Homo sapiens: one gene and its partners. The protein of the gene in region 3 purifies or fractionates together with the protein of the main gene of each other region. This does not show direct contact. Each region holds a gene or a part of one and is shown on either strand. Other genes may lie near its edges. The genes, in order: CEP295, PLBD1 and SPICE1.

Region 1 (3,749 bases), on a different chromosome or scaffold from region 3:
TGTGTGAGGGAAAATGGGAGGGAGCTGATAAAAGTTACAAGCGCCTCAGACTTCAGTGTAAGTCTAACACTGAATGGAGGGAAGTAACAATGGGTAGACCCCTCTTAGACAGCCATGCAGTATAAGAAATGTTCAGCAAGAACCCGTGGGGAGATTCTCAGGAACAGGCCTGCCACTGTCAGTGGCTAGGAGCAGCCCATGGGAAGCATGGCCTCAGTGCAAATGGAGATTTCAGAATGCAGGAGATTAAGATATGTGAGTTACATTCTCATGTCAAAGTTGTCATGTCCCCCTTAATCTGGGACAGTTTCTCAGTCTGTCTTTTCAAGACCCTGTCATTTTTGAAAATACTGGCCAAGTACTTTGTTGAATGTCCCTCCATTTAGATTTGTCTAATCTTATGTGATTAAACTGAGGTTATGTATTTTTGGCAAGAACACCACAGAATTGATTAGGCACCTTTTCAGTGCATTGTTATCAAGAGGTAAATGATGCTGAATTTTGGTCACTTGGTTAAGATGATGTCCACCAGGTTTCTCCTCTGTAGTTACTACTTTTCCTTTATAAATATCTCATGAAGACAGAGTAGAGGCTACAGAAATATGCTTTTCATCATACTTTTGCCCATTGACGTTAGTATCCATTGATGACTGTTGTCTGAAACAACTACTGTGGTGTTTACCAAATAGTATTTTCTATTTCCATTATTCCTTCTACAATTATCAATCGGAATCCTGCTGTAAGGAAGTTTTCCCTGCTGCCCCATTTACTTGTTTATTAATTATTTATTCTTAGTAATATGGATTTTTAAATTCTACATTTTATTACTATCCAATATTGAAGATTATACTACTTATCTTGCAAGATTTCGTCCTGAGGATTAAATGGCTCCTGGTACATAGTAATCACAAAATTAACACTAAACTTGGAAGATCTGGGTTCAAGACCCAACACTGCCACTTATTAGCAGGAAGATACTGGCCAAGTCACTGAAGTCACTTTGGTTTCGTTTTCTTAAACTGTATAAAGGGAATAATAATATCTACCCCAAAAGGTTTGTTCTGACGTCTATGTGACTTAGCGTGAAGTCTTCAAATACACTCTAAGTATTAAGGACTCAAAAGTTCACCATTGTTTTAAAAGTTGAGTTTGTGACAGGATTGAATAACTGTGAGATTAAGGTGGCAGACACCAAAAGAGAGCGTGCTCTTTGCATGAAACGATCCAGGCAAGGCTCTTTTAACAGCTACCAGGTGGCAGGCCATGTCCGCGGGTGATCTGGGGGAAGCGCCCCTCCCCCGACACGGAAGCTCCGCGACAGGGGAGGCTGCGTGGGAAGCTCGCGCGACCCGACCCCAGGAGAGCGCGCAAAGCCTCTCGCACTGAGTTACCGGGTCTGGTCCGGACACTCCTTACAGCCGCCAGCCCGACCGCGGGCAGGGCCCACGGCCTGCGGAGCCTGAGAAACGCGAGCCGTACCTGCGTTCGCAACAAGGCGCCTTCCTGGGATCCCATTCCTCCGGAATACAATCCCAGCTCTTGGGCCTCGGGGAGTCATGCTCCTACGGGGCGACTGGGAAGCCAGTGCATCCCTGACTCACCTGAGAACCCGGGGCCTGGACACAGTAACCGCAGCTCAGAGCAAGCCAGCCTGGTAAGCTCCTGCCCATCAGCTGCCCAGCAGCCGTTTCTGCGCCTGCGGGAGAGCCATCGCCGAGCCGCCGTCACTTCCGTCATTCAAACCGCCCGCCAATGGCCGGACCAAACCGCGGGAATAGGCCCTGTCCCGCCTTCCTCGGGGGCCGCCGGGAAGGCTGCGCGGTGTTAAAAACCCCGCGCCCCGCGCACGCGCACAGGCACGCGCCAGCCCCAGCCTGCCTAGGGGCCCATTATTTGTCACACCTGTCAGGCTTTGACGTTTTCCCGTATGGGCCGCGCTCGGTGGCTCGCGCCTGTAATCCCAGCACTTTGGGAGGCCAAGGCGGGAGGATCACTTGAGCCCAAGAGTTCGAGGTTATGTATTTTTGGTTATGAGTTCAAGACCAAGTCCTTTTAAAAACATGGTGAAACCTCATCTTTACAAAAAATACGACAACAGCAAAAATTAGCCGTGCGTGGTGGTGGGCGCCTGTAATCCCAGCTACTCGGGAGGCTGAGGCAGGAGAATCGCTTGAACCCAGGAGGTGGAGGTTGCAGTGAGCCGAGATCCCGCCAGTACTGCACTCCAGCCTGGGCGACAGAGCCAAAGCCTGTCTAAAAAAAAAAAAAAAAAGTGCAGAGCCATGAGGGTGACTTTTGTTTTAAGGCCCCATCATGAAGATATCTTGGGATATGCATCCTTTTCTGTACTGACTACGGAATTCATTGGTACTATTATGCGCAGTTAACGTCTTATAGCTTTCATTTAAGGCCTCCAGCTCATAACAACAATGAGCCGTATGTTACCCTGTGCCTCCAGAGGTACAGCGCACGGAGAGCACCTCACGGATTTATCTGCTGTAAATAACCAATAATCAGGCGGTGAGCACAGGTTAATACCTATTGAGTATCTGTTATGTGCCGAGTACATTATGTTACTCTGGATGGATTATGATGCCTATACTAGATTTTGCAGTCTGGGTCATGGGGGTTAAACATCAGGAATCAAAGGATTAAAAATGGGGGGTGGGGATGGGAAGTTGCTGACACGATCAGATCTGGCTGCACAGTGGGGAAAAGGTCAGAGAGAGTGAAGACAGAAGGCCGTATACTACTACAGAAAGTGAAAGATAATAGCAATGAGAATGGAGAGAGGTGAGTAGATTGAATAGGAAGCCAAACATCAGGAATTGGTGGTTACCTGGTTATGGGAGGCACAAGAGGAGAAAACAAGGGTGATGCCCAAGTCCCAGATACCTAGCACCTGGGTAGATAGTGATAACATCCTCCTGGAACACACATGAAGAGAACCAGGAGGGAGAAGTAATAAGTTAAGCTTTGAATATTTTGAATTTGAGCTGTTTATGAGATATCTAGACAAAGGGATGCATTTCAGAAACTTAGGACACAAAATTAGCAGTACTTGACAAACAATTGCATGTGAGATTGAGAGAAAAGGGAAAGTGAAGTTGATTTCATAGGCCACTAGCTTGGGTAGCAGTGTTGATTCTTGATTGTAAAGGGAGAAATCAGAAATGGCAGTTAAGTGGGTAGGGTGATGAGCCAAGCTCTGTGTATATTGAACTTCATGTGCCTGTAGAACATCCAGTGATGTACTGTAAGCAGATGAATACATCGGTAGATAGCCCACAGAAAGAACTAGGCTAAGCATAAAGGGATTTCCTTGTTACATGAGTAATAACAAACGCTAGCGGAATGGATGAGATCACTTAGGGAGAATTTGCAGAGTGAGAAGAGCAATGAGCAAAGAACCAAACTCCGAGGAACACCAAAACTTAAAGGGATGGAGTAGGAGGAAGGAAGGTACAGGAAGAAATAGTGTGATTCCACCTCAGATTTACAGATCAGGATACTGAGTTACAGAGAGATTCAGCAACTTGGCCAAGGGCACATTTCAGTCAAGGGTGAACCAGGACTAGAATTCACGTTTCCTTCCCAAATATTAGGGTTCTTCTCAGCCTCTCTCCCCATTTCCTGTCACATTTATCTTGAAGAATATTTGTATTCATTTTAAACATTTTTTCAGCATCCTCCATACAGGCACGGAGATACTCTTCCATACCCGATAAAACATGTGCATATTATTTCAT
Region 2 (3,749 bases), on a different chromosome or scaffold from region 3:
AAAACAACGCCTGTCTCACTCCTCAGGCTGCCCCCTCCACCTACAAAAACACTTAATCTCACTCGTCCAAAAAAACAGAAAAGGAATAAAGATTTTAGCCAGCATTCCAAACACAAAAGCTACCTCCACTTTTGGGACCCTCCCCAGCCTCCCCCAGGTACCTCTGAATGAGCTGTCTCCCTAGACTAGAAGTAGACACCAAGGCCACCTCCATAGTTTAGGCAAAGAACACAGAAAATCACGAGTCAGGAGCCTGTGGGTACATCTGATCCCACAGACTGGAAAGATTTAAGATTGAAGAGTGATAACTAAGCAAGTCTCAAAAACGAAGGCTCTTGATGATGGAAGGTAGTGTAATAAGAATCAGTACACATATTTAGGAAGGGGCATCCTCCCCCAAGCCCCACCCTACTCTTGTACAAGGTCAGCACAGAAAAGGGGATTATGAAATAAGACAAAATTAATTCTCTTATTATTACTTTAGAATTCTTTCAAGTCCCTTAGTTACAGTTCATAATCTTCACCTCCTTAGGAACGGAAATCATAAATCCAAGGCTTTTTAATTTAATTTAATTTAATTTTGGCAAAGGATGTAGATTTGCATGAATACCTGTAGAGATAAAACCTGTTTTTCCAAGAGGGAAGTAGTTAAGAAAATGCCCTCTGGCATCCCCTAACTCTGTCTTATTTGCTGTGTTATCTTTATGCGAATTACTTCTGATCAATCTCACTTTTCTCATCTGCAGAATGGGGAATATAATCCTATTTAGGATTATATATTAAAAAAAAAAAAAAAAAACTGCCGGGCGCGGTGGCTCATGCCTGTAATCCCAGCACTTTGGGAGGCCGAGGCAGGCGGATCGCCCGAGTCAGGCGTTCGAGACCAGCCTGTCCAACATGGTGAAACCTCGTCTCTACTAATAATGCACAAATTAGCTGGGCATGGTGGCTGACGCCTGTAATCCCAGCTACTTGGGAAGCTGAGGGAGGAGAATCGCTTGAACCCGGGAGGCGGAAGTTGCAGTGAGCCGAGATCACACCATTGCACTCCAGCGTCGCCCACAGAGAGCGACTCTGTCTCAACAACAACAACAAAACCAAAAGGCCCTTAAGCCCACTGCCAGGCACGTATCAAACTGACAATCGTGCAATCGTGATTTTAAGCCAAAGTCAATGTAAATTTTTAAAACACAAAACAAATGGCAAGCCGGAACCATACCTCCCTACAATCTGGATAAATATATTTAGATGCCCATTGGCTGGAGTTTTTAAGACCAGCCCAGGCTCTGTGGGCCAAGAATCGGCGCAGGAGCGAACCGATTTGTTGGCCAAGAATTCGGGCCAAAACTTGTAAAGTTGGCAGACGCACTCGCCATGCCCTTCTCAAGTGCCCTCGCTGCGCAGCCGCAGGGCTGGAGCGAGACCGCCGGCCGGAGGCGCGTTTCTCTGAGTTCACCCAGGAACCAGACGCCCGCTGGACGTCAACTCGGCCGGACGCGGGGCACGGGCGCTAACAGGCTCCTAGGAGCCTCCCCGGGCGCCCCCCGCCCAGGGCGCGCTCTGCTCACCTGCAGGTTTCGGCGGCTCCGCGGTGACTAACAACAGCGGCAGCAGCAGCAGCAGCAGCAGAAGCGGTGGCGGCTGTGGCAGCCCCGGGCGCCCGCCCGGACCGCCGCGGGTCATCGCTCCACGGCCGCGACCTTCCTCTGCGGGATCAGGCGGCCGCGGTGGCCCGCGGTGGCAGAAGTTGCAAGAGAGGCTCCTGGCCTACTCAGGGGCGCCGCCTCTCCGAGGTGGGGCGTCCTCAACTTTCCTCTTTCTTGAGCCCGGCCTGCTCCGGGCTCTGAGGGGCGAGGACGCTTCACGTGGTGGCCTGGGGCCCACCCCGCCTAGGAAAGGCGGATCCTTTACGTCTGACCCTCTAGCAACCCCTGGGCCGGTCTGGGAAAGTTCCCCAGCTGCACTTCTGGGAAATGCAGAGGCTGCCTGCCGCTTTCTTTCGCAGTTTTGCGGCCCAAGGCTTGGGCGAATCAGTTCACATCAACACCCCTACTAGCCTCTCCCTCCGGGGTCGACCATTTATCTCCAGCAGCGGACCAGGCGCCCGGGCCAGGGTGACATGCGCGCCCTGCCTACACGCAGCTCGGATCCTCTGCTGTTTCTGGAGAGGCCTCCACAGGTGCGTTTTCCTCAGCGATTAGCGTACCCCTCATTCCCAGGCTGTTTAACCTAAATCCATGCGCTGTAGCTCAGATTTTTTATCCTTTTTGCTTCCTCTTCGTTGGCTGGAGCCACCACAGGAGAGTGATTCAGACGGGGCTGACACTAGACACACTCCTACGTTTCTGTGGAGTCCCCATTTCTGTGTGGGGTCAGTTAAAAGTGACATTGTGAAGTAGTCAAAAGTTATGCCTTGGGTGATATTGTGAAGTTGGCACCGGGTGCCCTAGGTGACATTGTGAAGTAGGCAAAAGGCATTTCATTCATTCACTCAGCATTGGCTGGGCCCATCTTATACTCCAGATACCAGTGATATAAAGACAGCTAAGAGCATGCCTCACCACAGACAAAAAGAACTAAGCCAGCCGGGCGCCGTGGCTCACGCCTGTAATCCCAGCACTTTGGGAGGCCGAGGCGGGCAGATCACGAGGTCAGGATATCGAGGCCATCCTGGCTAACACGGTGAAACCCCGTCTCTACTAAAAATACAAAAAATTAGTCGGACACGGTGGCGGGCGCCTGTAGTCCAGCTACTTGGGAGGCTGACGCAGGAGAATGGCGTAAACCCGGGAGGCGGAGCTTGCAGTGAGCCGAGATCGCGCCACTCTACTCCAGCCTGGGCGACAGAGCGAGATTCGTCTCAAAAAAAAATAATAATAATAACAATAATAATTTTTTTAAAAAAGAACTAAGCCATATAGATAAACAAGTACACAGAACTTGCCATTCTACTGTGTTAGAGCTATGTTTAAGGTGCAGTGGGAGAGGGGGAAGGAGGGAACAAGCCACCTCTCAGATGGGAACCTCAGCACCCCACTCTTCCTCTTGGCCTTTCTTCTAAGCTTAACCTAGGTGTCAAGGAGAGATGAGAAGAGAGAATAAGCAGTACCTTTCATAACGGGGAAAATGTAATTGTTAGAAAAGATAAAGAACCTAAAAGTTCATCAAATCTCTGTGCAAATTGTGAAACACAAGTCACAATTTTGTGGTCCAGGCACCATGGCTCATGCCTGTAATCCCAACACTTTGGGAGGCCAAGGTGGGAGGATCACCGGAGCCCAAAAGTTCAAGACAAGCCTGTGCCACACAGGGAGACTCCAACTCATTTTTATTTAATTAAAATTAAAGTCACAATTATGTTTAATGGCATTTAATGAATGAAGACATCGAGGACATTGTAAAAGTTGCACATTTTCCTTCAAGTTAGAAAATTAAAATGAAGAAAAATTAAAACGAAGACATCGAGGACATTGTAAAAGTTGCACATTTTCCTTCGTTAGAAAATTTAAATGAAGAAAAATTAAAATGAAGACATCGAGGACATTGTAAAAGTTGCACATTTTCCTTCAAGTTAGAAAATTAAAATGAACCAAAAATGAAAATTTTGGTTGTGTTATGATGGGAAGAGAACCACATTAGGATGTTCAAGGAAGTGGTGCCACCCCAAATATTTGAGTCATATTGCCCTATACCACCCTCCTTCACCTTACTAACCCTTCTGATCCAAGGAGCCAAGTGTTCTGATGAAG
Region 3 (3,749 bases):
ATATGTAGGAAAATCAATGAACAGGGACCTGTAATGAGATGTTCAAGCATCTTTAAGGTCCTACTTAACATCAGTAATCATGAATTTAAAGTCAGCATGATTGGGTGTTTTTTTTCAGATTCAGCTGCATGGGTGCAAGCACTTAGTAAGTGTAAAGTAGGGATGGCTAATATGGTCATTTTGCCAAGTGATTACAGCAATTTAGAGAGGGGCAGGGAGTTGAGGATGCAAGCAAGTGGATGATTGTTGATTATTAAATATATCTACATCAAACTTCCTCAATCAGAGTGAAAACTATTAAAGGCAGTACCTTTCCTCTAGAAGGTTTTGGGCATGTATTTGCAGACCACACATGGGTGTATTGTAACAGCAGAAAGCAAGGGGCTAGAGGAAATTGTCTTACCAGAGCAAATAAACTCTGTTTTTGAATCAAGTGCTTTGTAAAGTTCTTAACGTGGTCCACGCAGCTCTGACTGTCGTGGATCCAGCCTATCAGGGCGCCTCCCCTTCACAGCAAGTTCCCACTGTTCTCTAAACTTCAGACACACTGGACCTCTTCCTGTCCCTTGCATTTTCCACATCTTTGCACATGCAGCTCCCTCTGCAGGAATGCTTTCCCCTTCCCCACTGGCCTATTCATGTCTGAGCTTTCCTGAGTAATTCAAATATTACTATAATAATAAGCTAAGTATTTGGTTAGAGTGCTTCCTTCTTAGCACTCGTCATAATTTTAATGTTTTTGTCATTGATAACTGTCTGTTAATATGCTGTAAGTTTCCCACCTTGCCTGTTTTTAGCCCCATAGAACCTAGCTCTCCCGCACATTTGTAGGTTGTAATAAACAACTTTTTTTTTTTTTTTTGAGACAAGGTCTTGCTTTGTCGTCCAGGCTGGAGTGAAGTGGTATGACTGTGGCTCACTACAGCTTTGCCCTCCTTGGCTCAAGCGATCCTCGCACCTCAGCTTCCTGAGTAGCTGGAACTACAGGCGTGTTCCCACGCCCAGCTAATTTTTTAATTTTTCGTAGAGACGGGGTTTCGCCATCTTGCCCATGCTTGTCTCAAACTCCTGAGCTTAAGCAATCCTTCTGCTTCTGTCTCCAAAAGTGCTGGGATTCCACTACTAAAGATTTGTAAACAAATGAATAGAGATGAAAGCAAATTAAGTGATATGTGAAGTCTGGTGAGGAGAGCAACATCTTTCTTTTGGAGAATTCTCGAGGCACCGGCTAATGCTATATGCCTATTCTTTTTTTTTTTTTTTTTTTTTTGAGACGGAGTCTCGCTCTTTCGCCCAGGCCGGACTGCAGTGGCGCCATGTCGGCTCACTGCAACCTCCACCTCCCAGGTTCACGCCATTCTCCTGCCTCAGCCTCCCGAGTAGCTGGGACTACAGGCGCCCGCCACCTGGCCCGGGTAATTTTTTGTATTTTTAGTAGAGACGGGGTTTCACCGTGTTAGCCAGGATGGTCTCGATCTCCTGACCTCGTGATCCGCCTGCCTCGGCCTCCCAAAGTGCTGGGATTACAGGCGTCAGCCACCGCGCCCGGCCTGCTATATACCTATTCTTTAATAATTTGCCCTGAACCTTGCAGAGGAACCTCTCTCCCTTAGACTCAGGACCCGAGATAGGCTTTGGGAGGCGCCTGCGCACTGGGCTCGCCGGATATACGCAAGGGCGTGGGGCGGAGCTCTGGTAACCCAGGCAACAGCCCGGAAGCCGCTGGCTGGGTTAACCTGTGGCGCGCTCCGCGGTTCCGGCGCCTGAAGTTTTAGCTGCGGTGGCGGCGGCAGTCGGGACCGACTGCAAGGCAGGTTGAGATGATGGATCTGAGGCTTGCAGCTCGCAGTCCCAACGAGCCTTAGGGACCAGGGCTACCAAAAGGGTGGGGAGAACGGTGGTGGCATCTGTCTGTTGCCTGGGATCCAGGCGCCCGGTTGGGGAATCCTTACTTCAGGAAGCGCAGCCGCGGCTCTGTGTTTTGAGAGTGCAAGTACGTGTCAGGGTGCGTGTCTGGGTATGTTTGTGCGTGGCGCCAGAGCACCTCGAGTATGCGCGTGCGCACCGCTTTCGGGAGCTTTTGCACAGAGCTGGTAATTGGGGGTGCTCGATTGTAGCGTTGGGGGAGTTCACCGTGTAGCAGGAGAGAGGCAAACTATCCAGGGTGCTTTGGGACCGGGAGCGTCATTTAAATCGATGGATGTCAGAGGGGCTTCTCAGAAGGCTCCTCCTGTGAGTTTTGAGGAGTCCGTGGAAGTTAACCCAGTAGAGAAGAGAGTGAGCCTAATGAGTGTTCCAAGCAGAGGGAAAAGAATGGTTGCAACTGTGTGTGAGGCGAGAGCTTGGTTTTAGGATTTGCGGGAGATGTGAGAGAACACTGGAAAGAAAAGTCAGCCGGGCCATATGGGGGAGAGGGTCTGAATGCCAAGCTGAGTTGGATTGCTTTTGACAGTGGGGAGCCATCCGAATCTAGAGGAAGTAGGTAAAGGGTTCAGATCTATTCTCTATCCATGTATTTAGGTAGGATTGATTCAACAGTGTTTGGAAAGAGTTCTTGTTTCTCTTTGATCAGTTTTCCACACCAGTCAGAGTGGATTTACTAAGTCCAGTCATAACTATCCCTTTTAAAATTCTTCAGTGGTTTCCTATGGTCTTAGGTGTTCAGATTGCTGTGGCTCACAAGACTACAATCTGCTGTCTGCCTTTCTTCCTTTAACCTCTCACCCTCTCAGATCTTTGTTAATTGAACTGAACTTCTCAAACTCTTCGTAAATGCATTTTCCCTTGCCTGGAATATTCTTTCCCCTGCTTCTAACTTTTATTCGTATTTTAGCTCTCAGTGCAAACATTTTTGGGGGTATTACAGAGAGGAGAAGCTTTTACTTACTGCATAGAGTTAGTTAGGTACTTTCATGGCACACAGAATTTACTTCCCATGCTGCCCTTTTGTTGTAAATACTTGTTTAATTGCGGTCCTCTTAGAAACTCTTAACTCTGCAAGGGCATAGACTATTCTACTTTCTTGTTATATCTGGTGCCTCGCTTTTAGATGGTGCTTCAAAATATTAGTTACATTAATAGATGGATGATGAAGTCAGTGAGTGAAGAGTGAAAGGGAGACTAATTAGAATAATGAGAGCCTGAACAAAAATATTTTTAGTAGAGATGGAGAAGAGCGGGCAAGAGAGATTTTTAGGGAAAAAGTTAATAGATTCTGTTATCTGATTCACTAAGAGATAAGGAACAGAGGTGATGCTGAGGTTTTAAATTGGAGCAACTAGGATTGTAATTCTGTAAATTCAGCTTAATTGAACATATTTATCGAGTCAACCAGTTATATATCAGCAAGTAGAGATTTGGGGTATGATGATGAGCTGTATTTTGATATACTGTATTTGTGATATTTGGGAGATGTATATAGTAGGTAGTTAGAAATGAGCATTTGGTGTTTTTGTTTTGTTTTTGTTTGTTTATTTTAAGAGACAGAGCCTCACTTTGTCACCTAGGCTGGAGTGCAGGGGCGCCATCGTAGCTCACTGCAGCCTCCAATTCCTGGGCTCAAGCAGTCCTCCCACCTCAGCCTCCTGAGTAGCTGAAACTATAGGCACTCACTGCCACTCCTGGCTAATTAAAAAAAATTTTTTTTTTAGAGACAGGGTCTTGCTATGTTGCACAGGCTGGTCTTGAGCTTCCTGCCTCAAGCGATCCTCCAGCCTCAGCCTCCCGAGTTGCTGGGATTACAGATGCGA

What was found.
Region 1: the proteins of SPICE1 (region 3) and CEP295 purify together in Homo sapiens (affinity purification with mass spectrometry; 2 studies listed by BioGRID and IntAct, with this or other methods). This does not show direct contact.
Region 2: the proteins of SPICE1 (region 3) and PLBD1 purify together in Homo sapiens (affinity purification with mass spectrometry; 2 studies listed by BioGRID and IntAct, with this or other methods). This does not show direct contact.

Annotation. Positions count from the first base shown.
Region 1 is NC_000011.10:93,659,627-93,663,375, reverse strand, and holds the start of CEP295 (centrosomal protein of 295 kDa), read right to left. Parts: upstream 1,695-3,749; 5' UTR 1,602-1,694; intron 1-1,601. UniProt on the Homo sapiens protein: Centriole-enriched microtubule-binding protein involved in centriole biogenesis.
Region 2 is NC_000012.12:14,566,014-14,569,762, forward strand, and holds the start of PLBD1 (phospholipase B-like 1 precursor), read right to left. Parts: upstream 1,871-3,749; 5' UTR 1,684-1,870; coding exon 1,569-1,683; intron 1-1,568. UniProt on the Homo sapiens protein: In view of the small size of the putative binding pocket, it has been proposed that it may act as an amidase or a peptidase.
Region 3 is NC_000003.12:113,513,141-113,516,889, reverse strand, and holds the start of SPICE1 (spindle and centriole-associated protein 1), read left to right. Parts: upstream 1-1,733; 5' UTR 1,734-1,993; exon of another isoform or gene 1,994-2,232; intron 2,233-3,749.